4 linked regions of the Homo sapiens genome follow. The protein of the gene in region 1 purifies or fractionates together with the protein of each later gene. This does not show direct contact. Each region holds a gene or a part of one and is shown in the gene's direction. Other genes may lie near its edges.

What was found.
Region 2: the proteins of KDM6A (region 1) and WDR82 purify together in Homo sapiens (affinity purification with mass spectrometry; 2 studies listed by BioGRID). This does not show direct contact.
Region 3: the proteins of KDM6A (region 1) and KMT2C purify together in Homo sapiens (affinity purification with mass spectrometry; 3 studies listed by BioGRID and IntAct, with this or other methods). This does not show direct contact.
Region 4: the proteins of KDM6A (region 1) and PAGR1 purify together in Homo sapiens (affinity purification with mass spectrometry; 5 studies listed by BioGRID and IntAct, with this or other methods). This does not show direct contact.

What each region holds. Positions count from the first base shown.
Region 1 is NC_000023.11:45,057,760-45,066,038, forward strand, and holds part of KDM6A (lysine-specific demethylase 6A), read left to right. Parts: intron 1-1,246; coding exon 1,247-1,345; intron 1,346-1,487; coding exon 1,488-1,707; intron 1,708-2,262; coding exon 2,263-2,397; intron 2,398-2,849; coding exon 2,850-3,005; intron 3,006-3,564; coding exon 3,565-3,660; intron 3,661-4,887; coding exon 4,888-4,989; intron 4,990-5,662; coding exon 5,663-6,058; intron 6,059-8,279. UniProt on the Homo sapiens protein: Histone demethylase that specifically demethylates 'Lys-27' of histone H3, thereby playing a central role in histone code. Demethylates trimethylated and dimethylated but not monomethylated H3 'Lys-27'.
Region 2 is NC_000003.12:52,261,319-52,269,597, reverse strand, and holds part of WDR82 (WD repeat-containing protein 82), read left to right. Parts: intron 1-1,236; exon of another isoform or gene 1,237-1,320; intron 1,321-2,579; coding exon 2,580-2,646; intron 2,647-8,118; coding exon 8,119-8,218; intron 8,219-8,279. UniProt on the Homo sapiens protein: Regulatory component of the SET1/COMPASS complex implicated in the tethering of this complex to transcriptional start sites of active genes.
Region 3 is NC_000007.14:152,172,980-152,181,258, reverse strand, and holds part of KMT2C (histone-lysine N-methyltransferase 2C), read left to right. Parts: coding exon 1-548; intron 549-1,132; coding exon 1,133-1,425; intron 1,426-3,248; coding exon 3,249-5,068; intron 5,069-7,016; coding exon 7,017-7,128; intron 7,129-8,279. UniProt on the Homo sapiens protein: Histone methyltransferase that catalyzes methyl group transfer from S-adenosyl-L-methionine to the epsilon-amino group of 'Lys-4' of histone H3 (H3K4).
Region 4 is NC_000016.10:29,818,676-29,823,792, forward strand, and holds the end of PAGR1 (PAXIP1-associated glutamate-rich protein 1), read left to right. Parts: intron 1-864; exon of another isoform or gene 865-879; coding exon 880-1,079; 3' UTR 1,080-3,814; downstream 3,815-5,117. UniProt on the Homo sapiens protein: Its association with the histone methyltransferase MLL2/MLL3 complex is suggesting a role in epigenetic transcriptional activation. However, in association with PAXIP1/PTIP is proposed to function at least in part independently of the MLL2/MLL3 complex.

The sequences.
Region 1 (8,279 bases):
CCGAATCAGTGGTTCCTAGAATTTTAGGTTACATAAATCAGTAAAATTTCAAAGAATAATTATGAGGATAGAAATATGGTGTTTGGGCAAGTAAAAACATTAACTTTTTTTGCAATTTACTGTCAGCCAATAATATCCAAAATAAGAGAATTACAGCATAAATATTAATTCATTTATTGGAAAAACTTTATGTATGTATATGTGTGTGTTGTCTTTCCAATTTGTTTGCTTGGCAAACGTGCCATATACTGGCTGGCAATTAGGAATCACTAAATAATATGCATCTTTACATATTCAAATCCCTTACTCTTACTCTCCCCCCCCCCCCTTTTTTTTTTTGCCTTTCCTAAATCTTGCAGAATATGATGGTCTCTTCTTATCCTAAATTCTCAGGCCAATTATTGTCTATACTGGCCATTTGATATGACATCATGACATTTTTAATGTATCTTCAGTCCTCAACTAAATTGTAAGCTTCATGAAAATAGGGACTGGGTTTTTGTTTTTTTTCTTTTTCCTTTAGTGCCAAGAATAAGAAGATAATTTCAGTATTTATAATTTCAACTGTTATCTGTGTATCCATCATGTCCATCGTGTATATTCACATTAAGAAAATTACAGTCCTTGAATCGTTAATCTTACCTTGCTAACTTTACTAGTCATAAAATATTATACTTTATATTATTTTTACTTTTTACTTTATACTATTTTTGATACTTAGTTTGAGATTAACTATGTCTTACATGTGCATTTTTTTTATGAATTAAAGAATTATTGCCCTCAGTGTTGTTACTTGGGAAAGGAAAATTGAAATCTGATACAGCAAATCTTACCAACGTATATAGTGTTTTTGTTTTTAACTCTGTATTTTGACCATATAGGAAACTAGAGGTCAAGCTGTATAAGAAGAGTGGAAGAGTGCCGTGTGTGTGTGTGTGCACATGTGCATGCAGCTCTCAGTATTATAATATTGAAGTGATATGTCCCCTAATCATTTTAATAGAGTTCATTAATGCAGCATGCTTTTTAGCACCTATAAGACAGACTATAATATGGTTTGTTGGAGGGCAAATTATAATATTCATTATAGTTAACAAGTATATACATACATACACATAAATATATTAACTTATTAGGGTTTTAAAAAAATTTGCTGTGATATATAGTCCATCCTTTCAGCCGATTAATTTGTTTCAGTATTAATGGAATTCTCTTGATTTTTTTTTTTTTTCCCTTCCCTTCTCAGGTGCTATTCAAGTATTGGGAAAGTTCAGGATGCCTTTATATCTTACAGGCAGTCTATTGATAAATCAGAAGCAAGTGCAGATACATGGTGTTCAATAGGGTAAGCCTTTGTATAAAAATAGTAGTAATTTAATTGATATACAAAGATGGTTGCATCACATATAGTACTTCATAGTTTAAATCATTATAAAACCAAGCAGTTCTTCTGAGTTGACTTATTTTTTCTTAATTTCTCTTTCCAGTGTGCTATATCAGCAGCAAAATCAGCCCATGGATGCTTTACAGGCCTATATTTGTGCTGTACAATTGGACCATGGCCATGCTGCAGCCTGGATGGACCTAGGCACTCTCTATGAATCCTGCAACCAGCCTCAGGATGCCATTAAATGCTACTTAAATGCAACTAGAAGCAAAAGTTGTAGTAATACCTCTGCACTTGCAGCACGAATTAAGTATTTACAGGTAAAATTTTTAAATGGCAGTTTTTTAAAGCCACATATTTCCCCAGAACACTCAGGCAGAAGGAGGGTGGCTGGAAAGTTTGTCTAGTTGTGTTTTGATGTCTATAATCTGTTTCCATATTTTGTAAACATACCATAGCTTGTAATATTATTTTACTTTTCATTTTAAGTAAGATATGCAGTATTTTTAAAGATGCTCTTTTGCACATTTACTCTGTTGATGCATATTAATTTACATAATTTTTTTCTATGTACTGTCTACATTTTTAAGTTGTCATAGCATTTTATAGAAAACACAAACAGTCTTTCACTCTTGCTTGGAGTTTCTTGAGAAGACAGCTATGAGAACTCTGAAAACAGAGCTCAGCTTTGTTTTGATTCTCACAAAGGTTTATATTCCGGTTACCCTGTTTATACTTAGTGTCTTCTAAAGCCCCAAATTTAGAATCTATTTTCTTTTAAAAACAATTAGCTATAGCATTTAGGAAGATTTAGTGGACTTGCTCTTACTCAAGTAGGCTTGTGTTAAATTTGCTTTTTACATAATTTTTCCTAGGCTCAGTTGTGTAACCTTCCACAAGGTAGTCTACAGAATAAAACTAAATTACTTCCTAGTATTGAGGAGGCGTGGAGCCTACCAATTCCCGCAGAGCTTACCTCCAGGCAGGGTGCCATGAACACAGCACAGCAGGTGAGAAGTTGGGTTATGTTCTGCAGGTGCCCAGCTTTAAGGGTTCTTTTCAATTCTCTAGTGGTCAAGCTTAATTTACTAAGCACAGGAGGCTTTTAGTAATGAAAAGCCTTTTGATTTAATTGCAAAGGGAATCTAGATCAAAATAAAATTCCCTCTAATATGGGAAGAGATTTTGGGGTACCAACTTAGAACCTTTGTGCATTTTCATGATTTTGAAGGAGATTTCTTAAAATAATGCTACAGTGGTTTGTTTAATTTTTAAGGCAAGTTTTTCAAAGGAAGGTACACATTATTCCATTGATGAATCATTTAATTTTGATTTTCAATCATTGCAATCAGCGATGTCCACATAGCTTTGAAAAGTATGCAGCTTGTAAAGTTTTATAATTTGAAGGAATGAATTAAGAATATATAGAACCCTATTTTTGTCTTCCTTCTGTGATTCTTAGGCATGTAAACCTCATCATCCAAATACTGAACCTGTATTAGGCCTCAGTCAAACACCAATTTCACAGCAATCCTTGCCACTACACATGATTCCTTCTAGCCAAGTAGATGACCTGTCCAGTCCTGCCAAGAGGAAAAGAACATCTAGTCCAACAAAGGTATATGTTTTAGAGAAATAGAAAATCCCAGTCAAAAAAGAAGTTTCAGCTGCCCTGAAATTGTGCAGTTTGAACATTTCCTGTCCTTTATTTTAAATTTGTGGACATCAAAGAGTGAAAGGTTTGAGTTTTTCCATCCCAAACCCTTAGTATCATATTAAATATAGAAAGTAGGGATAAATTTGCATTCATCAAATCATTTTATTCATCTCCCTGCCGTTAAGATCCCAGCACACTTTTCATCATCACTTTTTACTGACATTGAAATAAATTTAATGTTGGATCTAGTGGACAGTGTGGTGTTTAGGCTAGCCGTTTGGGCCATAGTTTGAGGGTGGGCCTTTTTGGGTGGCTTATTAAATAGTCAGTAATTTTTAAATGTATGATTTCTAAGTTTAATATGCATGTAAAATTATTTTTTAAAGAATTTAATGTTATAACATCTTTTTAACATGTAAATATTCCAATTCATAGTCATTTGGCCTCCTCTAACCATTATTATTAACTGTGGATTTAACCAAATATTCTTTAATTTTTTTTTTAAATCGATTTTCCTCAGAATACTTCTGACAATTGGAGTGGTGGACATGCTGTGTCACATCCTCCAGTACAGCAACAAGCTCATTCATGGTGTTTGACACCACAGAAATTACAGGTATGTAAGATGTTTTTGACAAATTGTTTATTAAAAAGGAGTAGAGGTAGCAAACAAGTATTAATTTTTTTTTTTTTTTTTTTTTTTTTTGAGATAGAGTCTTGCTCTGTCACCCAGGCTGGAGTATAGTGGCACGCTCTTGGCTCACTGCAACCTCCGCGTCCTGTGTTAAAGTTATTCTTGTGCCTCAGCCTCCAGAGTAGCTGGGATTACAGGCACGCACCATCACACCCCGCTAATTTTTATATTTTTGGTAGAGACTGGGTTTCGCCATGTTGGCCAGACTGGTCTTGCACTCCTGACCTCAAGTGATCCACCTACCTCAGCCTCCCAAAGTGCTGAGATTACAGGTGTGAGCCACTGCACCCAGCCCTAAGTATTAATTCTTATAAGTTAAATGGCAGTACATTCAATTAAAATGCACAAAAGTAAAATGAGCCTGCATTTACCAGAATAATGAAGAGCATTCATTCTTGTTTTTAATTTCTTTTTTTTTTTTTAAACAGGACATGGTTTACACTACATAAAGTATAAATATAGGGTATATAGGGTAAAGTTTTCTTCTAACTCTGGCCCCTACCCACTCAAAATGTGGCTGGTATTACTAATTTCCTATCTATCATTCCAGAGGTATGTTATGTATGTACAAGCAAATATACATCCCCCCCTTTCTCACATGTATTATTATTTTTCTTCTTTTTTACACAAATGATAGGATTCTTATTTGCTGTTAACAACATATTTTACAGACTTCTGCATGTCAATATGTGAAGAGCTTCCTTGTTCTTTTATGGTTACATCATATTTCTTTATATAGATGTAACACCTTTATTTAAGCAGATCAGTAATTTTGGACATTCAGGTTGTCTTCAGACTTTGCTTATTCCAGACAGTGCTGCTTTTAGCATACTTGTCAATATATTTTTAAGCTTCAAGAGTTTTCTCTGTGAATACCTAAGAATACTGTATGGATGAGTAAAATTTCATGCCCATCTATTACAAAGAACTCATAGTAAATCTTGTTCAGATGAATGCTTAGTTCATTCTTATATTTCTCAAGCTTATTAAAGGACTTCATCTTGGAGTGTGTGACTGTTGGTCAGAAGACAGTGTGTTTGACCAGATAGTGGTTCTGAGTTTAGTCATTTCAGGGAAAGGTTGCTTAGAATAATGATCTTATTTCCTAAATATATCTTTGACTATATTCTCTTTTTGTTCTTCTTCTAGCATTTGGAACAGCTCCGCGCAAATAGAAATAATTTAAATCCAGCACAGAAACTGATGCTGGAACAGCTGGAAAGTCAGTTTGTCTTAATGCAACAACACCAAGTGTGTATAGCATATTTTTCCCTGAAATTTGTTAGCATTTTGAGTATTTTTATTGACTCTAATGTCATTTTAGAGCATGTTTATGTTCATTTTTACTTTCTACTGGTATTTGACAGAATTTAGTAATCTCTGTATTTTAAAATACTGGTAATTGACGGAGATTTTTAGACAAAAGCAACTATAATTTTGAAGAAGATACTTTGTATTTTATTTATTTACATGATATTTCACATGTATTCTAAGGGTTTGTTTACATTATTTAGTACTGAGGCAAGGTTTTTAGGGCTTATTTAGTTTACAGGATCTGGCATATATGTAACAGAATGAAATTTTGAGATGTCCCCTCTTTTGTGATTGAGAGAAGGACCTATAAGTTCGGGGTCGTTTTCTATAATTTTCAGCTGCTTCCTTTTGTCATTACTAATGGGATTTTTTTTTTTTGAAACCGACTTTTGCTTTTTCAAGGAAGTTTATTTTAAAATGAACAAATACAATTTCTTGTTTTTAAAGTATGTATTTCTCAACTTAGAGAAATTAAGCATTTGGGTAAAATCACACATTCCCTAATTATACATCTTCATATTCATCTGGGGATTCATAGAGAATCCCCTATAGATTCTCTTCCCTATAGATTACACAACCAGCATTTACTTTTCCTTTGTTTTTTTGACAGATGAGACCAACAGGAGTTGCACAGGTACGATCTACTGGAATTCCTAATGGGCCAACAGCTGACTCATCACTGCCTACAAACTCAGTCTCTGGCCAGCAGCCACAGCTTGCTCTGACCAGAGTGCCTAGCGTCTCTCAGCCTGGAGTCCGTCCTGCCTGCCCTGGGCAGCCTTTGGCCAATGGACCCTTTTCTGCAGGCCATGTTCCCTGTAGCACATCAAGAACGCTGGGAAGTACAGACACTATTTTGATAGGCAATAATCATATAACAGGAAGTGGAAGTAATGGAAACGTGCCTTACCTGCAGCGAAACGCACTCACTCTACCTCATAACCGCACAAACCTGACCAGCAGCGCAGAGGAGCCGTGGAAAAACCAACTATCTAACTCCACTCAGGTAATAGGAGGACTAGCTTCCTTGTTGGCTTTTCACATAAATGTTTTTACTGGGTTTTATACACTTTGAGAGAAGAAGAGAGAAGTGTTTGGGGAACTGGTTTTATAAGAATTTTGTGGCACTACAATGTTACTACATTGTGATTCATTATGTACATACATGAGTATATCTTTGTTCCCTTTGTACAGTCTCTACCGACATAGATAACTTAGCAAATTTACAAAGGAAGAAAATAGATCATATAAATCACCCAAAATGCACCATTAATTTACAGTGGCATCATAAGCACATTTATGTAATATTACTTAGTTCATTTCTGCATAAACTGCCTACTTAAGATCAGGCACTAAACTAGGTGTTAGGTATTTGCTTTAGTGGGAGAAAAAGACCAGTGAATAAGTATTTACCATAATGACTGTGAAGTGTGACTTTGGTGGGAAAGTTCTATCAGAGTACCTACGAGAGCACATAACCAAGATGTCAGAGTCTTCCAGAAGCTAGAGTTTAGGGGAGGAGAGGGCTGGTGAAGTGTGCCTAGAAGATAGGTTATGAAGAGGGGAGGGTGAAATAAGAGGCTGAGGGAGAGGCCAAATTTATCTTGAAGGCAAAGTTGATCCACTAAAGTTTTTGAAACAGAGTAATGAATTGCATGCACATTATTTTTGTCAAGGAAATGGGTCATAATGTATTCAACGTTAGCACATTCGTTAGACATTTAATTTCTAAGTTTTTACTTCTGAATGTTTATGTGCATAGTATTTCCCATATTTTGGATTGTTTCCATGATATGGGTACTCGCTGAGGTGAAACTGAAGGGCCAAAGAGTAAGTTTTAAGAAAATGCTCTCAATATGTATAGCCAAATTGCTTGTACTTTTATTAATTTACTATGAGAAATATTTGACTTAAAAAGAGAAATATTTGGCTGATTGTCGGTTAGTCTTATATTATTGATAAAACTGAAATAAGTTCTTTTTCTAAGATTTTTAAGTTTATTCTTGAATTAATATCCTTGGTGGGACCCTGATCTAAAGTGATTAGTACTTTATTCATTCTTAGAGAAATACTGAGTACCTACTAGGTTCATTTCCTACTCAAGGCTCTGGGAATACATCAATAAAGAAAATATACTGAGATGTCTCTACTTGGTGTAGGTAAATAGATAGTAAACAAATAAGCAATACATATATAACATTAGATGATGGTTGTGATTAGTGCTATGGAAAAAAGCACTAATAGAAAGGGAACAGCAGAATACTAGAGATTGGTGGTAGGAGAGTTGCAGTTATAAATCAGAAGGGCAGGGAAGGCTTCTCTGAAAGATAGCATTTGGATGAGAGTTACAGGAGTGAGCCTTGAAGCTATTTGTGATAAGATTGTTCCAGGTCTAGGGAGCAGCACGGAGCAATGGACCCTAAGGTAGGATTGTGCTGTGCACATTTGAGGAGAATCAAGGTGGCAAGCATGGCAGAACAGGACAGGCAAGGAGTGAGAAGAGAGAGAAATGTGCTCCAGCTGGAAACAGGATGGCTAAATCATGATCAGCCTTATAAGGATACTGGATTTTATTCTGAGTATCCAGGAAACCGTAGGGGGATTTTGAACAGAGGAGTGATGTGATCTAACTTTGTTTTTGACTAGGTCCTCTTTGGTACTCTGTGGATAGACTGAAAGAGGCAAAAGTAGAAATGGTATGACCATTTTAGAGATTATACCTGTAATCCAGGTTAAAAGTTGATGATGGCTCCCAGAGTGGTAGTAGTAGATGGTGGTCAGCTTCTGGGTATATTTGGAAGGTACAGCCAACAGGATTAGTTGATATAGAGTGATGTGTGAGAAAGGAGTCCCAGCTGGCCTGACCAACTAGAAGGATGGATGAAACTGGATGGTATCACCAATCAGTGAGAACAGATTGAGAAAAGAACTCAAGATTGAGCCTTAGGGCATTCCAGTGTATTAGGCTAGGAAATTGAAGAACTAGCAGAGAAGAATAGAAGAGATTGACCTGTGACATAGTAGGAGATCAAAGACAATGTGAGTGATGCCCTGGAAGCCAAATGAAGAAAGTTTCAAGGAGGAGGACATGATCAAATAATGCTCATAGGTCATATAAAGTGAGGACTGAAAACTGACCATCTGAGATATTTGCTGACATTATTGGAGTAAGGAAACTACAGGTTACAGGCAAAATTTACCCCACGACCTGTGTTTTTTATAACCCG
Region 2 (8,279 bases), on another chromosome or scaffold:
CCACCATGCCTGGCTAATTTTTTGTATTTTTAGTAGAGACAGGGTTTCACCATGTTAGCCAGGATGGGTCTTGATCTCCTGACCTTGTAAGCCACCGTGCCCGGCCTATTCTTTATTCTTTTGAGACAGAGTCCTGCTCTTGTTGCCCAGGCTGGAGTGCAATGGTGCAATCTCGGCTCACTGCAATCTCAGCCTCCTGGGTTCAAGCGATGCTCTTGCCTCAGCCTCCCAAGTAGCTGGTATTACAGGTGCCCACCAACACGCCCGGCTAATTTTTGTATTTTTAGTAGAGTTGGGACTTCACCATGTTAGTCAGGCTGGTCTCGAACTCCTGACCTCAAGTGATCTGCCTGCCTCATCCTCCCAAAGTGCTGGGATTACAGGTGTGAACCACCACGCCCGGCCAGGATTCTGTTTTTAAACTTATTTCAGTGGATTATTGATGATCATCTCACATTTTGCAGTAAGGTTTTTTTTAGGCCGGTGGCTACATAGTGGCTCATGCCTGTAATCCCAGCACTTAGGGAGGCCTAGGAGAGTGGATCACTTGAGCACAGAAGTTCGAGATTAGCCTGGGCAACTTGGGAAAACCCCGTCTCTACAAAAAATACAAAAATTAGCCAGGTGTGATGGGACGCGCCTGTAGTCCCAGCCACTTGTAAGGCTGAGGTGGGAGGATTGCTTGAGCCCTGGAGGTCTAGGGTGATCACACCACTGCACTCCAACCTGGGTGACAGAGCGAGGCTCCATCTCAAAAAAACAAAAAAGATTTTTCTAATGTCATTCCACAAGGATAGCTTATACTGCTATTTTGGCTGTGCCTATCTCAGAGCAGAATGGGCGGAAGTCCTTTTTTCCATTTTTTTTTTTTTTTAATGAGACTCTTCTGCCTGTATTGATTTTTAGTTAAGTATGTCATTTCTACTTTTCATGCCTGTATTTCAGAAGTGGTTTTCTAAGGAAGCAGTGTAGTTAATGATTTTGGAAAAGAATGTAAAACCTTAGGATCCTGAGGAAACATGTCTATGTGATCATCCGAATGACTGGTTTATTTCTTCTGTTGGGATGTTTTTCTGAGTGATTAAATGAGGATTCTCCAAATGTGGTGCAAGATGAGGCAAATGTGTGGCACTTGTAGCTTTGCTGCCAAGCCTCTGCTGTGAGGATGTTCCCTTTCCTGTCTCAAGTGCATCCTGAAGAGTTCCTCCAGCGCTCCGTTTCCTTTTGCCTGATTCCAGGCTGAGGTAGTAGTTTGTACAGTTTGAGGGTCTATGATACCACCCGGTACAGGAGATAACTGTACAGGCCACTGCCTTGCCAGGAACAGCGCGCCAGCTGCCAAGTGGGGCTGAGAGGATGGCGTCACCCTGCTCATCTCTGGGAAACCAGGTAATGGGGAGGAAGTCTTTTTCTTCTTAGGGCAGGTGAGTCATTGTTAGCAGTAGAATAACTAGAAATACTTCGTAGTTGTCATTCAAGAAGTTTGAAGATGTTTTCAAGGAAAATTGTGTAGTGTTCAAGTTATGGAATATACAAATATCCCTATTCCCCTATTCCCCCTCCCAAGTTAAATGCCCTCTTATTAGAAAGCACCCCTGTGAACCCCTGGGATGACTCGATGCTTTCAACCCCTTTATTCCTATGTTCTGTTTGCCTTCAGAATGTTCTTTCTATGGTTTTCTTTCTGCATTTTGGTACCATTTTCCCTTAGCTGTTTCTCAACAATTTTTCCTTATTCCTAGTCTTTTTAAGGGGATAATACTTTTCTATTTTGCAGTTTTATTCTTTATGGCACTTCATTTCTCTACCGCCACCATGTTTTTTGTTTGTTTACTCTTTCAGATAGAATCATTTGGTTAAGAGTGTCTTATTTTTCCACAAGCACAAATCTCTGATTGTTCCTTTCTTTAATATTGTCAAAATCTCACTGCTATTACTCATTGGTATAAGAATTTGATTTTTTTAATGTCTTAAGATCTTTTTAACCCAGATCTTGACATCACTTCTCTGACGTTTTGTTTATTTTCATTGTAATTTGTGTGTCCAATTGAAGAATGTTCAAATGAGTTGAGGGTGGGTCAACATACTGATGGAGAACTCTAGACAAAAATTGCTGCCAGGGTTCAACCTGATCTTCAGTTTAACTGCCATGGCTGCTCACCTCTTTAAGTCTGTTAGCTCAACAGCCACATATTTTTCTTTAAGGTTTGCCATTCTGTGGACACTAGACCAGTATCTAAAATTATTATGTGTGCTTTACTTGTTTTTGTTTTTTGACCAGGGTATATTTGCAGGGTGGGAGTTGCATTGTAATTATGAAGAAACCAAATTGGTAATAAAAGGTCATTTCAAACATTGCTTTCTATGCTGTCAACTTAAGAACTCTGCTTTTGAGTTAGGTGAAATCTACATACCCACTCTTCAGCTGCAGAGTAGAATTATTCACCATTATTTATTCATGCCTTGCTTGGGATATAGAATACAATGGATTATTTGACCTTGTCTTTTTAAGATGAAAATGTAAAGTAAATTTCTTTTAAATAGTATGATATCATCATACCTTGTTTGTCTTTTTACAGATACTATTCGTTACTTGTCCTTGCATGACAACAAATACATCAGATACTTTCCTGGACATAGCAAAAGGTAAGACCCACGTATTATAGAAGCAGATAGTTCTTTTATCCCTGAGGTTACCCAGAGAATAGAAGGCTAGAGAGAGCTTATTAGTGAACTGAAGCTACTTCCTCACTACTGCTTGGCATTCTTCATCTTCTCTTAAATAGTCAACTCTTGATTTACTGAGGTTATAGAGGTGCAGAGGTAGGTGTTCAGAGATACCTCAGTTAAAATATAACTAGGCCCAGTGCAGTGGCTCACACCTGTAATCCCAGCACTTTGGGAGGCCGCGGCGGGCGGATCACTTGAGGCCGGGAGTTTGAAACCAGCCAGGCCAACGTGTCAAAACCCCATCTCTACTAAAAATACAAAAATTAGCCAGGTATGGTGGTGGACACCTGCAATCCCAGCTACTCGGGAGGCTGAGGCAGGAGAATCGCTTGAACCCAGGAGGCAGAGGTTGCAATGAGCCGAGATCGCGCCACTGCACTCCAGCTTGGGCGACAGAGTGAGACTCCGTCTCAAAGATATATATGTATATATATTTTTTCTAGTTATAGGTATATCTATTTCTAGTTAGATATATATATTTCTAGTTTTATATATACATATAAAACTAGAAAAAATGTGGATTAAAGATATTCAGTGAAAACTTATGTAGTAAAAATTAGATTTGGCATTTAGGAATACCAAATCTCACATATCCCTTAATAAAGGACTGTTTGTGTTTATGAGGCCTTCCAATATATGTGGCCCCCATTTCAGTGGGCCCCTATGTAAAAATGTTCCATTTAAAGATCTTAATGAGAATGCAAAAGAAAGTCCTTTTTTTAAAATCAAGAAGTTTATCTCCTTTTTCTGTATTGTAATGCAGGTTGCTTCTCTCTGTTCTTCACCCCAATGCCCCTAGTTACTTTTTTCTCTAATTTTTCAACTTTTCTTTGAATGTTAAACACGTTTTCCCCTGGATAATATTTTAATCACTTGGGGTATTTTTTCCTGCATCCATTTGCAAATGTACAGTAACCCAGGATGGTTTCGATTGGTATGGAGCCCTGACAGGAGATGGCCTGAGAGCCTCCTGTTAGAAATTGCACTTCCAGGCCAGGCGTGGTGGCTTAATGCCTGTAATCCCAGCTCTTTGGAAGGCTGAGGAGGACAGATTGCTTGAGTGCAGGAGTTCAAAACCAGGCTAGGCAACATGGTGAAACCCTGTCTCTACAAAAAATACAAAAATTAGCCAGGAGTGGTGGTGTGCGCCTGTAATTCCTACTACTTCGGAGGCTCAGGCACGAGAATTGCTTGAACCCGCGAGACAGAGGCTGCATTGAGCCAAGGTGGCGCCACTGCACTCCATCCAGCCTGGGTGACAGAGCAAGACCCTGTCTCAAAAAAAAAAAAAAAAAAAAAAAGTTGCACTTCCAGTTGGGCAGGCCATTTGTGTTGCTGAAATAAAGGTGAAATAAGGTGGCAACCAGTGGTAACTGGTTTCAGACAAAGGATGGCTCATGATAAGTAGATGTTTTGCTTGTTTTTATTCAAATTAATGTTCACAAATGTACTATTTGTAATTAAGAGTTGATGCAGTTGTTTGACGTGCTTTCCAGTCTTCCCAATTATTCAACCTCTTGACCTCCTGATTCTTTTTTTTTTTTTTTTTTTTTTTTTTTTTTTTTTTTGAGACAGAGTCTCGCTCTGTCGCCCAGGCTGGAGTGCAGTGGTGCAATGTTGGCTCACTGCAGGCTCCGCCTCTTGGGTTCACGCCATTCTCCTGCCTCAGCCTCCTGAGTAGCTGGGACCACAGGCACCCGCCACCAAGCCCCGCTAGTTTTTTGTATTTTTAGTAGAGATGGGGTTTTACCGTGTTACCCAGGATGGTCCCTGATCCGCCCGCCTCAGCCTCCCAAAGTGCTGGGATTACAGACGTGAGCCACCGCACCCGGCTGGCCGACCTCCTGATTCTTGATAGATGACTTTGTCCCTCCTTTTATGAGAAAATCAAGGCTATACAAAATGAGTTATTTCAGCTGGGTGTGGTGGTTAAGGCCTGTTATCAGCACTTTGGGAGGCTGAGGTGAGAGGATCGCTTGAGTCTGGGAGGTTGAGGCTGCAGTGAGCCATGATTGTGCCACTGTACTCCAGCCTGGGTGACAAAGCAAGACCGTGTCTCCAAAAAAAAGAGTTCTTTTAAACATCTATCCCTTCCACCTAAATTCTGTCTTCCTTGGAATCCTTTCCTTGAGAAAGCTGTTGTCTTTCTTTCACAAAACAGACCTTCCTCTTTCTGCTTGCTTCCATCTCCTTAATTGGCCTTTCCTTTGTTGCCTACAAATTTACTTGGTCTTTCTTATCTTAAATCTACTTATTGACCCTATCACCCACTCCTTTTCACTATCAAACTTGAAAGAAGAATCTGTACATTCCCATCTCCACCTCCTCACACATGTTCACTGTTGAAATCATTTTTGCACTAGTCCCAGAATCGTCTATGGGGCTTTATCCAAACCTTTATCCTTCATTCCCTGCTGCCTCTAGTTAAAAAGCCACTGGTTTGGGCTTTTCTTGGTGCTTAACCTCTCAGTAAAACTTACTTTCCCGTGGCAGGTGACTTTTCCCATGTCGGTTCTGTTCTTGTAGTTTTCAGCCTCTGTTTTGACTCTAAAATAAACAAATATTTTATCCGCTTTCTTATCTCCATCGCTGATTTCATTTACCTCCATTCAGGTGGCTTCCCAAATCAGTATTTTTAGCTCATGTCTATTATCAGTTTCAGACCCGCCTTCCACCTACAGGTTTTGTTTGTTTTTTTGTTTTTTGAGATGGAGGCTCACCGGGTCACCCAGGCTGGAGTGCAATGGCATGATCTTGGCTCACTGCAACCTCCACCTCCTGAGTTCAAACGATTCTCCTGCCTCAGCCTCCCGAATAGCTGGGATTACAGGCACGCACCATCATGCCCGGCTAATTTTTGTGTTTTTATAGAGACAGGGTTTCACCATGTTGGCCAGGCCGCTGTCAAACTCCTGACCTCAGGTGATCCATCCGCCTCAGCCTCCCAAAGTGCTGGGATTACAGGCATGAGCCACTGCACCCAGCACCACCTACATGTTTTATACACATCTTTGTAGCTGTCTCTTCTGTCCAATACTCTTTCTAATACTCAGGTCCAGTACTCTGTCCATCATTGTTACCTTTTTTGGGCCAGCTTCTCTCTGTCTTCCTCATATTTATTCATCTCTGTCTCTTCCAATTCTGGCTCAAAGCATCTGTTGTTAGTTCACTCTTTTTCCCCTGCCATCATATTCAGTGAGTTGTTAAACTATTTAGTTCTCCCTAGGTTTAACCTCATGTGTCACTTTCCTCTGTGTTCTCTCCTTTGCTTCTGCCCTGGCTCATGCCCTGTGAGGTAAATTATTGTTAGCTCCTAATTAATCTTCCCATCTCTTACCATCCTGTTTCAGCTTCCTGGATTGCAGTTTGATTGCTTCACAATCTCTCTTAATGGTTCTCTATATTTTCATTGCTCCTTCCCCTTGTAGTCAGGTTCTGTCCCTTCTGGCTCTGACCCATTTTCTCAGCATTTTCTCCCACCATTCCCATTAAGGTGAACTCTGGGCTACTTCTTTGAAATCCTTTCTACCTCAGATGTTGTATCTTTCCAGAAGCCTTCTCTGGTCCTCTTGGAGTCATGTGGACTGGACAGTTAAAATTCCTTACGGTCGGGGTCTTACTTCTCCATGTGTTCCCTGTACTTCTCAGCATAGAGTCTTGTGCTGAGCTCTTGGGCTGAATGCCATGGCATAAAATTACATGTCCACAACGTGTTCTGCTCATTCTGATTTTTGTTTTTTGAGACGGTGCCTTGCTCTGTTTCCCAGGCTGGAATGCAGTGGTGTGATCTTGGCTCACTGCAGCCTCCATCTCTGGGGTTCAAGCGATTCTTCCGCCTCAGCCTCTTGAGTAGCTGGGATTACAGGTGTACGCCACCAGGCCTGGCTAATTTTTGTATTTTTATTAGTGGTGGGATTTCACCATGTTGGCCAAGCTGGTCTCAAACTCCTGACCTCAGGTGATCGCCCACCTGGGCCTCCCAAAGTGCTGGGATTACAGGCATGAGCCACCGCACCTGGCCTGCTCATTGTGTTTTATTACCTCCTCAGCATTCTCAGGAAATTTTGGCTTTTAACAATACCTTTTAAAATTTTAACTTGAGGAGCTGGTGCAGATGTTAGTTGAGTTACATTGGAAGAAAATGTTTTTCAGTGAGTGTCTCTTGATGGTATAACCACAAAAGGGAACCAAAAAAGGAATACAGTTGCTGTTAGCATAGGCTTGTGGTTCTCTAGGTGTGGTGCCCAAAACAGCAGCCTCACCCATCACCTGGGGGCTAGTTAGAAACTCAGATTCACAGACCCCAAGTCAGGCCTACTGGATTAGAGGCTCTGGGAGCAGATCCTAGCAGTCTGTTTTAACCCACCCTCCAGGTGATGCTGATGCCACTTAGGTTTGAGAATATCTGTGTAGTCCTCACACATCTTGATAAGGAATCATGCTTTTTTGTGTTTTTTTAATTGAGATACAGTCTACATACTGTAAATGATTCCTTTAAAAATGTACAGTTCAGTGGTTTTTACTATATTTGCAAAGTTGGACAACTATCACCATCATCTAACTTCAGAACATTTTTATCACTCCAAAGAGAAACTCTGTACCCATTAGTAATCACTCCCTCAGCCCCTACCAACTGCTGATCTACTTCTGTCTTTATAGATTTGCCTATTCTAGACATTTTGTGTAAATGGATCAGTTCATATCTGATCTTTTGTGCCTGGCTTCTTTTACTTAGCATGGTGTTCCCAAGGTTCCTCCATGTTGTCACATGAGGCAGTACTTTATTACTTTTTATTGCCAAATAATGTTCCAGTGTATAGATACAGCACATTTTGTTTGTCCATCCATTAGTTAATGGACCATTTGGGTTATTTCTACTTTTTGGCTGTTATGAATAGTGCAGATCTGAACATATGTGTACATTTTTGTGTGGACATATATTTTCAGTTATCTTGGGTAAATACCTAGGAGTGGAGTTTCTGGGTCACGTGGTAACTTTTTTTGGAAAAACTTTTCCAAAGCAACTGTACCATTTTTACATTTCCATTAGCAATGTATGAGGGTTCCAATTTCTCTGCATCCTCACCAACACTTGTTATCTCTCTTATTATAGCTATGCTAGAGGGTGTGGAGTAGTATTTCATTGTGGTTTTGATTTGCATTGGAATCATATATTTTTATTTTGTAGCTTTAAATTTTTTTTTTTATACTAGTTGCCTTTGTTTGTTCCAGATATGGTTGTGGTATGTGTGTTTTATTGTGTTTCTTAAAATGGCAATTTTGGGAGAACAGGTATATATATGTATAGATAGGCAGAGTGGTTTAGAATTCACATCCAATTTTTGCTAATATTTCGCATCAACTCCTATTTATCTCGATGTATTGCAGGGTGGTGGCCTTGTCCATGTCACCTGTGGATGACACTTTCATTTCTGGGTCTCTTGATAAGACCATTCGACTCTGGGATCTCCGGTCTCCTAACTGCCAGGTAATGGTACCTCACAGTTATACTTTTTGAGCATTTTCTTTGGTAGGCACTGTAATGAACT
Region 3 (8,279 bases), on another chromosome or scaffold:
ATCCATATGCTCATCCTCCTGGAACACCAAGACCTGGAATTTCTGTCCCTTACTCTCAGCCACCAGCAACACCAAGGCCAAGGATTTCAGAGGGTTTTACTAGGTCCTCAATGACAAGACCAGTCCTCATGCCAAATCAGGATCCTTTCCTGCAAGCAGCACAAAACCGAGGACCAGCTTTACCTGGCCCGTTGGTAAGGCCACCTGATACATGTTCCCAGACACCTAGGCCCCCTGGACCTGGTCTTTCAGACACATTTAGCCGTGTTTCCCCATCTGCTGCCCGTGATCCCTATGATCAGTCTCCAATGACTCCAAGATCTCAGTCTGACTCTTTTGGAACAAGTCAAACTGCCCATGATGTTGCTGATCAGCCAAGGCCTGGATCAGAGGGGAGCTTCTGTGCATCTTCAAACTCTCCAATGCACTCCCAAGGCCAGCAGTTCTCTGGTGTCTCCCAACTTCCTGGACCTGTGCCAACTTCAGGAGTAACTGATACACAGAATACTGTAAATATGGCCCAAGCAGATACAGAGAAATTGAGACAGGTAAACACATTGTATGTTCTCAGTTTTAAATGTATTATTTGAGGAAGCTGTTCATTTCATCAAACTGAGTAATTTCTACACAGGAGTTAATGTTTTATTTTTTTTATTCTGTAGAGTTTGTCATACTGCAAAAAAGAAAAATGAAATTGATGAAATTAACACCAGTTTAATTTATTCTGTATCTGATTTCAGTTTTCACGAATTCGCAGGGGAATCCTTAAATATTAAAGCTTTGTTTTGTGATAGTTGTCTGGCAAGGAAAAGGACCCAAATCATCAAATTATTTTTCCTAATATATTGAATAGTTAAATGTAACTGGTATTTCATCAAACTTTGAAACATTACCATAGCCACATAATGAAAGTATCAGGATTTAAAAAGCCACTAACCTGTCAGGCACGGTGGCGCATGCTTGTAATCCCAGCTACTTGAGAGGCTGAGACAGGAGGATCACTTGAGTCCAGGAATTTGAGGCCAGCCTGGGCAACATAGCAAGATCCCATATCTAAAAATAAAAAGCCAGTAACCTTTAAAAAGCCATTAATTACCACAAATCCCAGTGATTTTTGTTTCTTCCCATTTAGCGGCAGAAGTTACGTGAAATCATTCTCCAGCAGCAACAGCAGAAGAAGATTGCAGGTCGACAGGAGAAGGGGTCACAGGACTCACCCGCAGTGCCTCATCCAGGGCCTCTTCAACACTGGCAACCAGAGAATGTTAACCAGGCTTTCACCAGACCCCCACCTCCCTATCCTGGGAACATTAGGTCTCCTGTTGCCCCTCCTTTAGGACCTAGATATGCTGTTTTCCCAAAAGATCAGCGTGGACCCTATCCTCCTGATGTTGCTAGTATGGGGATGAGACCTCATGGATTTAGGTAATGCTTTTAATTTCCTGCCGAATTTAAATTGCTATTAGAAGAGGGAAACAGAGCTGGGTGTGGTGGCTTGTGCCTGTAATCCTAGCTACTAGCTGAGGCAGGAGGATTGCTTGAGGCTAGGAGTTTGAGACCAGCCTGGGCAATATAGTGAGACCACCCCCCCCCCCCCCCAACCTCTTCAACAAATTTAAAAATTTTTTAAAAGAAATAGACAAATGAAGTTAGTATTAATCAGGAAGCTGTTACTGCTTTCTACTTCTTTCTCCCCTTTGAAATATATATAATCTGCTATTTAGTGCTAATGAGAGGTCATAGACATTTTTTTCCTCTAAGAACTCTACAGACTCTGAAAACATTACCTTTGTTTTTAAGTATTAACTGTGTTAGCATTACCTTGCACCCTTAATGATGCAGTTTATCATATGACATCCTCAAAATGTAGCTATTCTGCGTAGGCAAAGCCTCCTACGATGTGATGAGACTTGTCCTCTCTCCAAATTTCTACCTTTTAACTTTACATTCTAAATTAATTTTAGGCTGGGCGCAGTGGCTCAGGCCTGTAATCCCAATACTTTGGGAGGCCGAGGTGGGCGGATCACTTGAGGTCAGGAGTTCGAGACCAACCTGGCCAACATGGTAAAACCCTGCCTCTAGTAAAAATACAAAAATTGGCCGGCTATGGCGGCAGGCACTGCACCTGTATTCGCGGCTACTCAGGAGGCTGAGACAAAAGGATCACTTGAACCCAGGAGGTGGAGGTTGCAGTGAGCCGAGGTCACGCCACTGCACTCCAGCCTGGGAGACAGAACGAGACTCTGTCTCAATTTAAAAAATAATAATAATAAATTTTAGAGATTTCCGAACTGAAAGGACTTTCCCTTTAGGAACTTTCCATGGTGAGATAGGGTTGTAAGTTAGTGGTGATGAATCATAAGAATGTTTCCTTTTTCAAAGTGGCTAAAGTCAAAGCCAAACCTATGCCCTAGTTATAATAAGGAAATAGTTCTTTAAGATATGCTTTTTAGTTTTATGTCTTTTAGTCTTATATCTCTACCTCCATGTTATATTCTTTTAGTTTCCTTTTCTTCTACCTTAGTTGTAATTTATGCCTCTTTCTGCATTTTATATTTTGTGTAAGTTGCCTGTAATCTTACTCTTAATTTCCCTTTTTTCTTCCACCTTGTTATAATTTATGCCTCTTGCTATGCTTTGTATTCTGTGTAAGTTGCCTGTAATCCTGTCTAGAAGGAAGTACAATATAAAATAGTCCAACAATTTATACATTTACTTAATCTTTATAGATGAGGCCTACTTGTCCTTTTCTCTAAGTTTATTCTATCCCATCATCAAACCTGTGCCTTTGTAGTCTCATGTACTGAGGCCTGTAAGTCCCTCAATAGGTATGAAGACCTATCTTCATTCAAACATCATCCCCGAATCAGCTTCCTCCATCGAACCTCCCTAAATATAGATAAAAGAAACTCTTCCTGAAAAAGTCCAGTAGTATTGTTCTTATCTCTGAACAATTGATTTCATCTGCTTGGTTGTTCTTCCTTTGTCTTCATTTTTGTTATCTGTTAAATCTTAAGCCTTTAGAGCTCAGATATGGTGTTCATTATAGGATTCTTAGCAAAATCTTACTTGCATATGAATACTGTAAATACTTTTTAATGGTGATAGCTTTGCTTTTGTAAGTCATAGTATTTGGCAACATTTTGTATGTACAGTTTAATTGAAGACTTTTCTTTTTTTCAACTTAACTCTAAATTTAACATAATACCTATTTGCTTTTTTTTTTTTTTTTTTTTTTTTTTTAAAAGATTTGGATTTCCAGGAGGTAGTCATGGTACCATGCCGAGTCAAGAGCGCTTCCTTGTGCCTCCTCAGCAAATACAGGGATCTGGAGTTTCTCCACAGCTAAGAAGATCAGTATCTGTAGATATGCCTAGGCCTTTAAATAACTCACAAATGAATAATCCAGTTGGACTTCCTCAGCATTTTTCACCACAGAGCTTGCCAGTTCAGCAGCACAACATACTGGGCCAAGCATATATTGAACTGAGACATAGGGCTCCTGACGGAAGGCAACGGCTGCCTTTCAGTGCTCCACCTGGCAGCGTTGTAGAGGCATCTTCTAATCTGAGACATGGAAACTTCATTCCCCGGCCAGACTTTCCGGGCCCTAGACACACAGACCCCATGCGACGACCTCCCCAGGGTCTACCTAATCAGCTACCTGTGCACCCAGATTTGGAACAAGTGCCACCATCTCAACAAGAGCAAGGTCATTCTGTCCATTCATCTTCTATGGTCATGAGGACTCTGAACCATCCACTAGGTGGTGAATTTTCAGAAGCTCCTTTGTCAACATCTGTACCGTCTGAAACAACGTCTGATAATTTACAGATAACCACCCAGCCTTCTGATGGTCTAGAGGAAAAACTTGATTCTGATGACCCTTCTGTGAAGGAACTGGATGTTAAAGACCTTGAGGGGGTTGAAGTCAAAGACTTAGATGATGAAGATCTTGAAAACTTAAATTTAGATACAGAGGATGGCAAGGTAGTTGAATTGGATACTTTAGATAATTTGGAAACTAATGATCCCAACCTGGATGACCTCTTAAGGTCAGGAGAGTTTGATATCATTGCATATACAGATCCAGAACTTGACATGGGAGATAAGAAAAGCATGTTTAATGAGGAACTAGACCTTCCAATTGATGATAAGTTAGATAATCAGTGTGTATCTGTTGAACCAAAAAAAAAGGAACAAGAAAACAAAACTCTGGTTCTCTCTGATAAACATTCACCACAGAAAAAATCCACTGTTACCAATGAGGTAAAAACGGAAGTACTGTCTCCAAATTCTAAGGTGGAATCCAAATGTGAAACTGAAAAAAATGATGAGAATAAAGATAATGTTGACACTCCTTGCTCACAGGCTTCTGCTCACTCAGACCTAAATGATGGAGAAAAGACTTCTTTGCATCCTTGTGATCCAGATCTATTTGAGAAAAGAACCAATCGAGAAACTGCTGGCCCCAGTGCAAATGTCATTCAGGCATCCACTCAACTACCTGCTCAAGATGTAATAAACTCTTGTGGCATAACTGGATCAACTCCAGTTCTCTCAAGTTTACTTGCTAATGAGAAATCTGATAATTCAGACATTAGGCCATCGGGGTCTCCACCACCACCAACTCTGCCGGCCTCCCCATCCAATCATGTGTCAAGTTTGCCTCCTTTCATAGCACCGCCTGGCCGTGTTTTGGATAATGCCATGAATTCTAATGTGACAGTAGTCTCTAGGGTAAACCATGTTTTTTCTCAGGGTGTGCAGGTAAACCCAGGGCTCATTCCAGGTCAATCAACAGTTAACCACAGTCTGGGGACAGGAAAACCTGCAACTCAAACTGGGCCTCAAACAAGTCAGTCTGGTACCAGTAGCATGTCTGGACCCCAACAGCTAATGATTCCTCAAACATTAGCACAGCAGAATAGAGAGAGGCCCCTTCTTCTAGAAGAACAGCCTCTACTTCTACAGGATCTTTTGGATCAAGAAAGGCAAGAACAGCAGCAGCAAAGACAGATGCAAGCCATGATTCGTCAGCGATCAGAACCGTTCTTCCCTAATATTGGTAGGAGTTTTCTTGAGTCTCAACGTATATTACTATGGGTATTAGAGTGGCATGCGATATGCTTATAAGATTTTATTATTAGAATTACAGTTGGAATAAAGCACTGAGTTTTTCTATTCCTCCTTGAGGAGTTTGTTTGTTTTGTTTTGAGACGGAGTCTCACTGTGTCACCCAAGATGGAGTGCAGTGGCGCGATCTCGGCTCACAGCAACCTCCACCTCCTGGGTTCAAGTGATTCTCCTGCCTCAGCCTCCCGAGTAGCTGGGACTACAGACACGTGCCACCATGCCTGGCCAATTTTTGTATTTTTAGTAGAGGTGCGGGGTTTCACCATGTTGGCCAGGCTGGTCTCAAACTCCTGACCTCAGGTGATCCGCCTGCTTTGGCCTCCCAAAGTGCTGGGATTACAGGCGTGAGCCACCCTGCTTGGCCCTCCTTGAGCTTTAGAATGAAAGCAGTTGGCTGGGCACAGTGGCTCACGGCTGTAATCCTAGCACTTTGGGAGACCGAGGCAGACAGATTGCCTCAGCTCAGGAGTTCCAGACCAACCTGGGCAACACAGGACATGGATGAAGCTGGAAACCATCATTCTCAGCAAACTAATGCAGGAACAGAAAACCATACACTGCATGTTCTCACTCATAAGTGGGAGTTGAACAGTGAGAACACATGGACACAGGGAGGGGAACATCACACACTGGAACCTGTCGGGGGTGGGGGGCTAGGGGACGGATAGCATTAGGAGAAATACCTAATGTAGATGACGGGTTGATGGGTGCAGCAAACCACCATGACATATGTATACCTATGTAACCAGCATATTCTGCACAAGTATCCCAGAATTTAAAGTATAATAATTAAAAAAAAATAACAAAAAATTAGCTGGGCATAGCAGCGTGCGCCTGTAGTCCCAGTTATTCGGGAGACAGAGGCAGGAGAATGGTGTGAACCCAGGAGGCGGAAGTTGCAGTGAGGCGAGATCGCACCATTGCACTCCAGCCTGGGGGACAGAGTGAGACTCTGTCTCAAAAAAAAAAAAATGAAAACAACGAAGAGTTTTAGATTCTTTCCAGGTAAATTAAGAGATTCAAAACTGAGTTACAAACTTCCCTCAATTCTATTATTTATGGAATTGTTTAATAGAAACTAATTGTCTTCTTAGTTCCTACATTCCAACCATTGTTGCCATATGTTTTCAGTCATGGAAGGATGAATTTAAGAAAATTATGATGGAAATAAAGCTTCTTACTGTCCTTTTGTGTATGACAAATGCTTGGCGATTTTTTGCTATATAAACCTCTTTAACTTGTTTCTAATGGTTTACTGATTCTAAAAACAACAAAAGCAATGCAGTCAAAATGCCTCAGTGCCTCTAAGAATAAGAATTAGCAATCAAAGGGCACGTGTCTAAGCAGTGTGCCTTATTCTAAATAATAAAATTGACATTCCATTTTATATATCCCCAATTTCATCATTTTGCTCCCTTTTTTTCATTTAGATGCAAATAGGTTTTTTCGTAGTAGCTTCTTATTGAGAGGTTATACCCTTAAGAAATTGGTGCATTTTTCTTTTAAGAGTGATAACTAATTTAGTAGAATTCCTTAGTATTGCAAATTCTTATTTGTGATGTTATATTTACTAAAGAAGCCATTCTGATTAGCATTGCAAAAGTTTGGATGAAAGGAAATTAATTGCATTGCTTTAGATTATTGCTTATAATCTCCCTTAAACTTGACTTTTTGTTTTAATTCCTGCAGGACTAAGGTATTAAAGCATGATTCAGTTAAGGACTACTGAGATGCGATTAAACCCAGGATAAGGTTGCCATCTCAGAAATCTGTAATGATTATTAAATAATAAAATTTAAGAGCTTGTAATATTTGAATTACTTCTTAGTGTACGTTGAACTAATTACTATGAAATAAGTAACTTTATATTTCTTTTCTAGATTTTGATGCAATTACAGATCCTATAATGAAAGCCAAAATGGTGGCCCTTAAAGGTATAAATAAAGTGATGGCACAAAACAATCTGGGCATGCCACCAATGGTGATGAGCAGGTAGGTGGAGTGGCTGCTTGTTTCTACTGGGCATCTAGACATTCATGAAATCATTACTAGTTTTTAGAAAAAACATACAGAAAATGGAAAGCCCTTGTCTAGGAATGAACAACACTATTTAAGTTGTCATGGCATCAGCTCGATATGATCAGATACAAAATGCTATACCAATTTAAGAAATTAGTGTAAGAACCAGTTTAAGAGCATTAGTCTCAAGGATGGTAAATGTAAAACATCTTAAAAAGATTTGGAAGATTGGATTTCCTGATTACTCAAGTCAAAGTATTTAGGTCTGTGCTCTTTTAAATACCTTTAGAATTGTTCATGTTATCTAAGATTTTTTTCAGTTAAGACACTGAGTGATTAAAGCAATTATAAATTCAGTTCTAAAATAAAATGTTCCCAAACCGGTTTTGAATCAGAAAAAGAAAGTTACAAGGAATAGATAAGAGGACAGTTGGAAGTTGGAGTTACAGAGTTTGTCTTTTCTCTCTTAGGAGAAAAACAGAAATTACGCATTAAAGAAGACAGTAGGGGTTATTTCAATATCTGAATTTTTGAAATTATGCCCTCTAAGGGTTGTTAACCACATGGCACTGTTTCTTAAATTTTGATCATGGACCACCATGAGAATTATGGGGTAATTTTTTTAAAATGCAGATTATTTTGCTCTACTGCAGACCTACTAAATAAGAATATCTGGAGATGGTTGCCTGTGTGTCTGTATTTTTAGCAAGCGTCATGAATGAGTCTTACGTGTATTACTATATGAGAACCTCTGTCAATAAAGTAAGCATAGAGCCTCAATTTAGTCTAGTTATCTTGTTGAAAAACTTTTATATAAAAAATGTGGATGATTATAGAATTGAATATAAAATTTGCACGAATTTAAGATGTATATATTTCAAAGAAATTTGAATTCTTAAGGGTATAATTCTTTTCAATTGTTGAGATACTTTGGACATGGTTAAGAAGCATTTTTGAGATCAAAGTAGAGATAGTGGTTTCCAATGATTTTCATTATTGAGCAATATTTATTAACACTATTTCTCTATCATAGAGATTCCTAACTGTTTTATGTCTTGAATATTTTTGGATTCCAGTGAAGCCTTTGAAATTCTCAGAATGTTTTATATGCAGAAAATTTAAGA
Region 4 (5,117 bases), on another chromosome or scaffold:
CTCAGTCTCCTGAGTAGCTGGGATTACAAGGACACGTCACCACGCCTAGCTAATTTTTGTATTTTCTAGTAGAGAGGGGGTTTCGCCATGTTGGCGAGGCTGGTCTTGAACTCCTGACCTAAAGCTTCCCAAAGTGCCTGCCTCAGCTTCCCAAAGTGCTGGAATTACAGGCGTGAGCTGCTGCACTCAGCCATAAATCGTGTCACTTTTCCACTTAAAATTTTCCAAGGGATTCCATCTTGCCAGGGAAGAGCATGTCAAAGGAGAATCCAAGCGCTTTTCCCGCCACCTCCAGTTCTCTGCACTCTTTTTTTTGTTTTTGTTTTTGGCGAGTAGGGGAGACGGAGTGTAGCTGTGTCACCGAGGCTGGAGTGCAGTAGTGCGATCTTGGCTCATTGCAACCTCCACCTCCCGGGTTCAAGCGATTCTTCTGCCTCAGCCTCCCAAGTAGCTGGGATTACAGGCGCCCACCACCACGCCCAGCTAATTTTTTGTGTTGGCCAGGCTGGTCTCAAACTCCTGACCTCGTGAGTTGCCCACCTCAGCCTCCCAAAGTGCTGGCATTACAAGCGTGAACCACCATGCCCGGCCTGCACTCTTCTTTGAACAGAACTCTGTTCTTGTCCTGGGGCCTCTACCCTTGCCATTCCCCTGCCCAGTATGTTCCTCCCTGTTCTTCACATTACCTGTGCCTTCCTGTCAATCAAGATCTTTGCTTCTCACCCTCTCTGAGGTCCAACCCTGAACCTCAGGTCCTCCAAGACAGAGGCCTGGGGACCTGCATGTTTAACCAGCTCCCCAAGTGATGAGTGAGGTCCAGGCAGGTATGGTGTACACCACCTCCATCCCTTCCATGTATCTTACCTTCCTCTTCTCCAGGAAGCTCAGCCCGGAGCCAGAAACGGGAGGCCCGCCTGGACAAGGTGCTGTCGGACATGAAGAGACACAAGAAGCTGGAGGAGCAGATCCTTCGTACCGGGAGGGACCTCTTCAGCCTGGACTCGGAGGACCCCAGCCCCGCCAGCCCCCCACTCCGATCCTCCGGGAGTAGTCTCTTCCCTCGGCAGCGGAAATACTGATTCCCACTGCTCCTGCCTCTAGGGTGCAGTGTCCGTACCTGCTGGAGCCTGGGCCCTCCTTCCCCAGCCCAGACATTGAGAAACTTGGGAAGAAGAGAGAAACCTCAAGCTCCCAAACAGCACGTTGCGGGAAAGAGGAAGAGAGAGTGTGAGTGTGTGTGTGTGTTTTTTCTATTGAACACCTGTAGAGTGTGTGTGTGTGTTTTCTATTGAACACCTATAGAGAGAGTGTGTGTGTTTTCTATTGAACATCTATATAGAGAGAGTGTGTGAGTGTGTGTTTTCTATTGAACACCTATTCAGAGACCTGGACTGAATTTTCTGAGTCTGAAATAAAAGATGCAGAGCTATCATCTCTTAAAAGGAGGGGCTGTAGCTGTAGCTCAACAGTTAGGCCCCACTTGAAGGGAGAGGCAGAATTGTACTCACCCAGATTGGAAAATGAAAGCCAGATGGGTAGAGGTGCCCTCAGTTAGCACCTGTCCCATCTCGGGCCCTCCAACTCCTCCCAGTCCCACTCCAGTGCAGCCAGCTGGCTCCAAGGTAGAAACCCATGAGCACTCAGGGAGCAGTGTGCCTTCAGCTGCAGCAGAAGCAGCCCGGAGGATAAAATGAGAACCAGCTGCACACGGGCCCTTTAACTCCCAAGCCCCACCCCTGGGCTTGGCCTGCCTTGCCCTGCCGGGAAGTGATCCCCAAGGCAGGGTGAGAGTTCCCCATCTGAGGCGTTTGTTGCAGCTACCTGCACTTCTAGATGTGAGTACATTGTACTAGCCCCCCAAACCCCAAATCAGGGGCAGATCTTTGTATCCCTTGAGGCTCTCTTTAGTCCTGTCTTGCTTTGAAGGGCCTTGCTTCTGCTGGGGCAGGGAAAACATGTCTGAATCAGAGTGGGGAAGGAGGATGGGTGGTGGCTTTGCTTTTGGAGGTTTCACTTTCCAATAGTTGGGAGTCTTCTGGGTTTTGAAGTAAAGGCAGATTAACACCAACACCGGTCCCCCACCCCCCTGCAACTCTCAGGCCTCTCTCTGACTTCAGGGTCCCACCTGGGAAATCAGGTGGGGAACCTTACAGGGTCATTCAGACCCCATCTTAGCCCTAGATCGGTGCTTGCTCTACTCACCTGCACTGTCCTGGGGACCTGGGCTCTGGCCTGTCACCTTGAGCTCCAAGAATGTGACCTGTACCCATTCAGGCCCCTTAACTCTGACAGATGAGGGTTTCTTACTCCTCCATGCAGGGCTGGGCCAGCTGTTGGTCTCAGTCGATCATTCAGGAAGTCATTAGCAGAGTGATTTCCAGAAGGCGTAGAATTTAGTGACCAAGGTTCTTTCCTTTTTGGGAGGAGAAAGTGAAAACTAGGATGCTCAGCTGGACCCACCAGCCTGAGATTCTGGGGATTTTAGAGCTGTCCCTTGGGGAGCCAAGCACTTGGGGGTGGAGGTGATAGCGAGGCTGATGGCCCCTGTGTTCTCAGCTCTCTGCCTGGGTAGCCCCTGGGTGATGGGGGAGAGGCCAGCTGTCACGTGGGGTATCAGGTGGCTCTGCCAGAAACTCCCTTGGCACACAGAGCACTGGGTCGGCCCTCGGGTGTGGCTGTTTGGGCAGGACAGCCCTCTGTATGTAGCCTTGAGCAGGTAGGGGGGCCACCTTGAGTGGGTGGCCCAGAGACAGCCTCAGGGCTCCAAGGTAACGGGGTGCTCAGGTTATCTTGGGTGCTGCCCTCCCAGGTTCTGGGGGAGCAGAGGCTGGGCGCTGGCCCAACTTACAGGAAACACTCACCTTTGAACTGCCATTAGCACCATCTGGGCAGTACACAGCCCCACCCAGGTCCTCTAGTTCTTGTTCTCGGCTTAGAATCTTTGTGTTTCTGCCTGAGAAGCCACTGCCTCCTAGTTTGTGGTCTCTACAGTTATAGCCAGGTTGGACTTCCGGCTCCGTCCTTTGATAACTGTGTGCTCTTGGGCAAATTTCTTAACTTGCAGGTTCTTGTGAGGATAACATGAGTTAATTGAGGGCACTTAACACTACCTGGCACAGATTAAGCTCATCTGAAGTGGGAGCTGTTACTTAGGGGCGTTTGCCTAGAACACAGGGTCCAGAGGCTCTCTCCCGGAAACTTAGACCCAGTGAGTCAGAAGTGAGGCCTGCAAAAAGCAGCAGGAGTGGGGTTAAGAATTCCAGCCTAGGGCTGGATGCGGTGGCTCAGGCCTGTAATCCCAGTACTTTGGGAGGCCCGAATGGGAGGATGGCTTGAGGCCAGGAGTTCCAGACCAGCCTGAGCAACATAGCGAGACCCTGTCTCTGTTTGTGTGTGTGTGGTTGGGGTTTTGTTTTTTTTTTTTTTTTAAAGAATTATAGCTCAGTCCTATGATTAGGCAAGTTGAGAAAATATTGATGAAGATCAGGGGTGCTGAAGCCTGGTTCCTGGGGTCGCTTCTGATCTAGGCGGTTCTTGCCTCTGGTGACTGGTGTTAATTGGCAGGAGTGGGAGGAGGGAGGACAAGTGGAAGTCTAGGCTGGCTGAGCTGTTCTGTCTCGAAAAGTTCCTAAAACTGTGCTGCTTTAAAAAAAAAAAAAGTAATTTATGAGACACATTCTCAATTTCCATTAATCATCTCCTAAAGGGGGTAAACCAGGAAGCCGCTGGGTGAAAACAGGCTGTTGGCAATTCCTGAGTCATGTGACCCATTCTCTAAAGACTAGAATATTTAACTTAAATCAGTGAGAAACTCTGTGAAGTTGTGTCCTTGTTTATACCAAACTTCATGTGCCTTTTCCTGAACCTGAAGCTGTGGGAAGGTCTGGGGGCAGGGCCGCATCACCGACCTTACGTCCAACCTCAGGACTGCCTGGAGCAAGAGCCCTGGGGTTGGGGACAAAGGAGGCTGCCTGGACCTGGGTAAGGGAAGGGGCTGGAGGAGAATGAGTGCAATTCCCTGCCCTTCACAGCCTGCAATCGGAGCTGTGTTTTTGTTTTTGAGACAGAGTCTCGCTCTGTCCCCCAGGCCAGAGTACAATGGCGCAATCTCGACTCACTGCAACCTCTGCATCCCTGGTTCAAGCAATTCTCCTGCCTCAGCCTCCCGAGTAGCTGAGACTACAGTTGCCTGCCACCATGTACGGCTAATTTTTGTATTTTTAGTAGAGACGAAGTTTCACCATGTTGGCCAGGCTGGTCTCGAACTCCTGAGCTCAGGCAATCCGCCTGCCTTGGCCTCCCAAAGTGCTGGGATTACAGCCACTGCGCCCGGCCTGAAACTGATCTTTATCCTCCTCCCAGTTCCTACTGTGCACCAGAGACCCTCCAGTCTCTAATACCTTTGACTTGAAGAGCAGTCATTTTTTTTTCCTTTTCTTTTCTTTTCTTTTTTTTTTTTTTTTTTTTGAGATGGCCTCACTCTTGCCCAGGCTAGAGCGCACTCGTGTGCTCCATTTACGGCTCACTGCAGCCTTGACCTCCCAGGCACAGGCGATCCTCCCACCTCAGCCTCCAAAGTAGCAGGGACCACAGGTGTGCACCACCACACCTAGCTAATATTTTTTATGGTTTTTATAGAGACAGGGTCTCCCTATGTTGCCCAGGCTGGTCTTGAACTCCTGGCCTCAAGTGATCCTCCCATCTTGGTCTCCCAAAGTGCTGGGATTACAGGTGGGAGCCACCAAGCCTAGTCAACAGTCACTTTTATTCTCACTTCACTGGAGAGGAAGGCTCAGAGGCTAGTAAGTGGCCCAGGAGCATGCTGGCAGTGATAAAACCTGCTGGAGTGACATTTTCCCACTGGCTCTCAATCCTGGATATATATTAAGAGTCAGAGGCCAGGCGCGGTGGCTCACGCCTGTAATCCCAGCACTTTGGGAGGCCAAGGCAGGCGGATCACGAGGTTAGGAGATCAAGACCATCCTGGCTAACACAGTGAAACCCCATCTCTACTAAAAATACAAAAAAAATTAGCTAGGCGTGGTGGTGGGTGCCTGTAATCCCAGCTGAGGCAGGAGAATGGCATGAACCCGGGAGGCGGAGCTGCAGTGATCCGA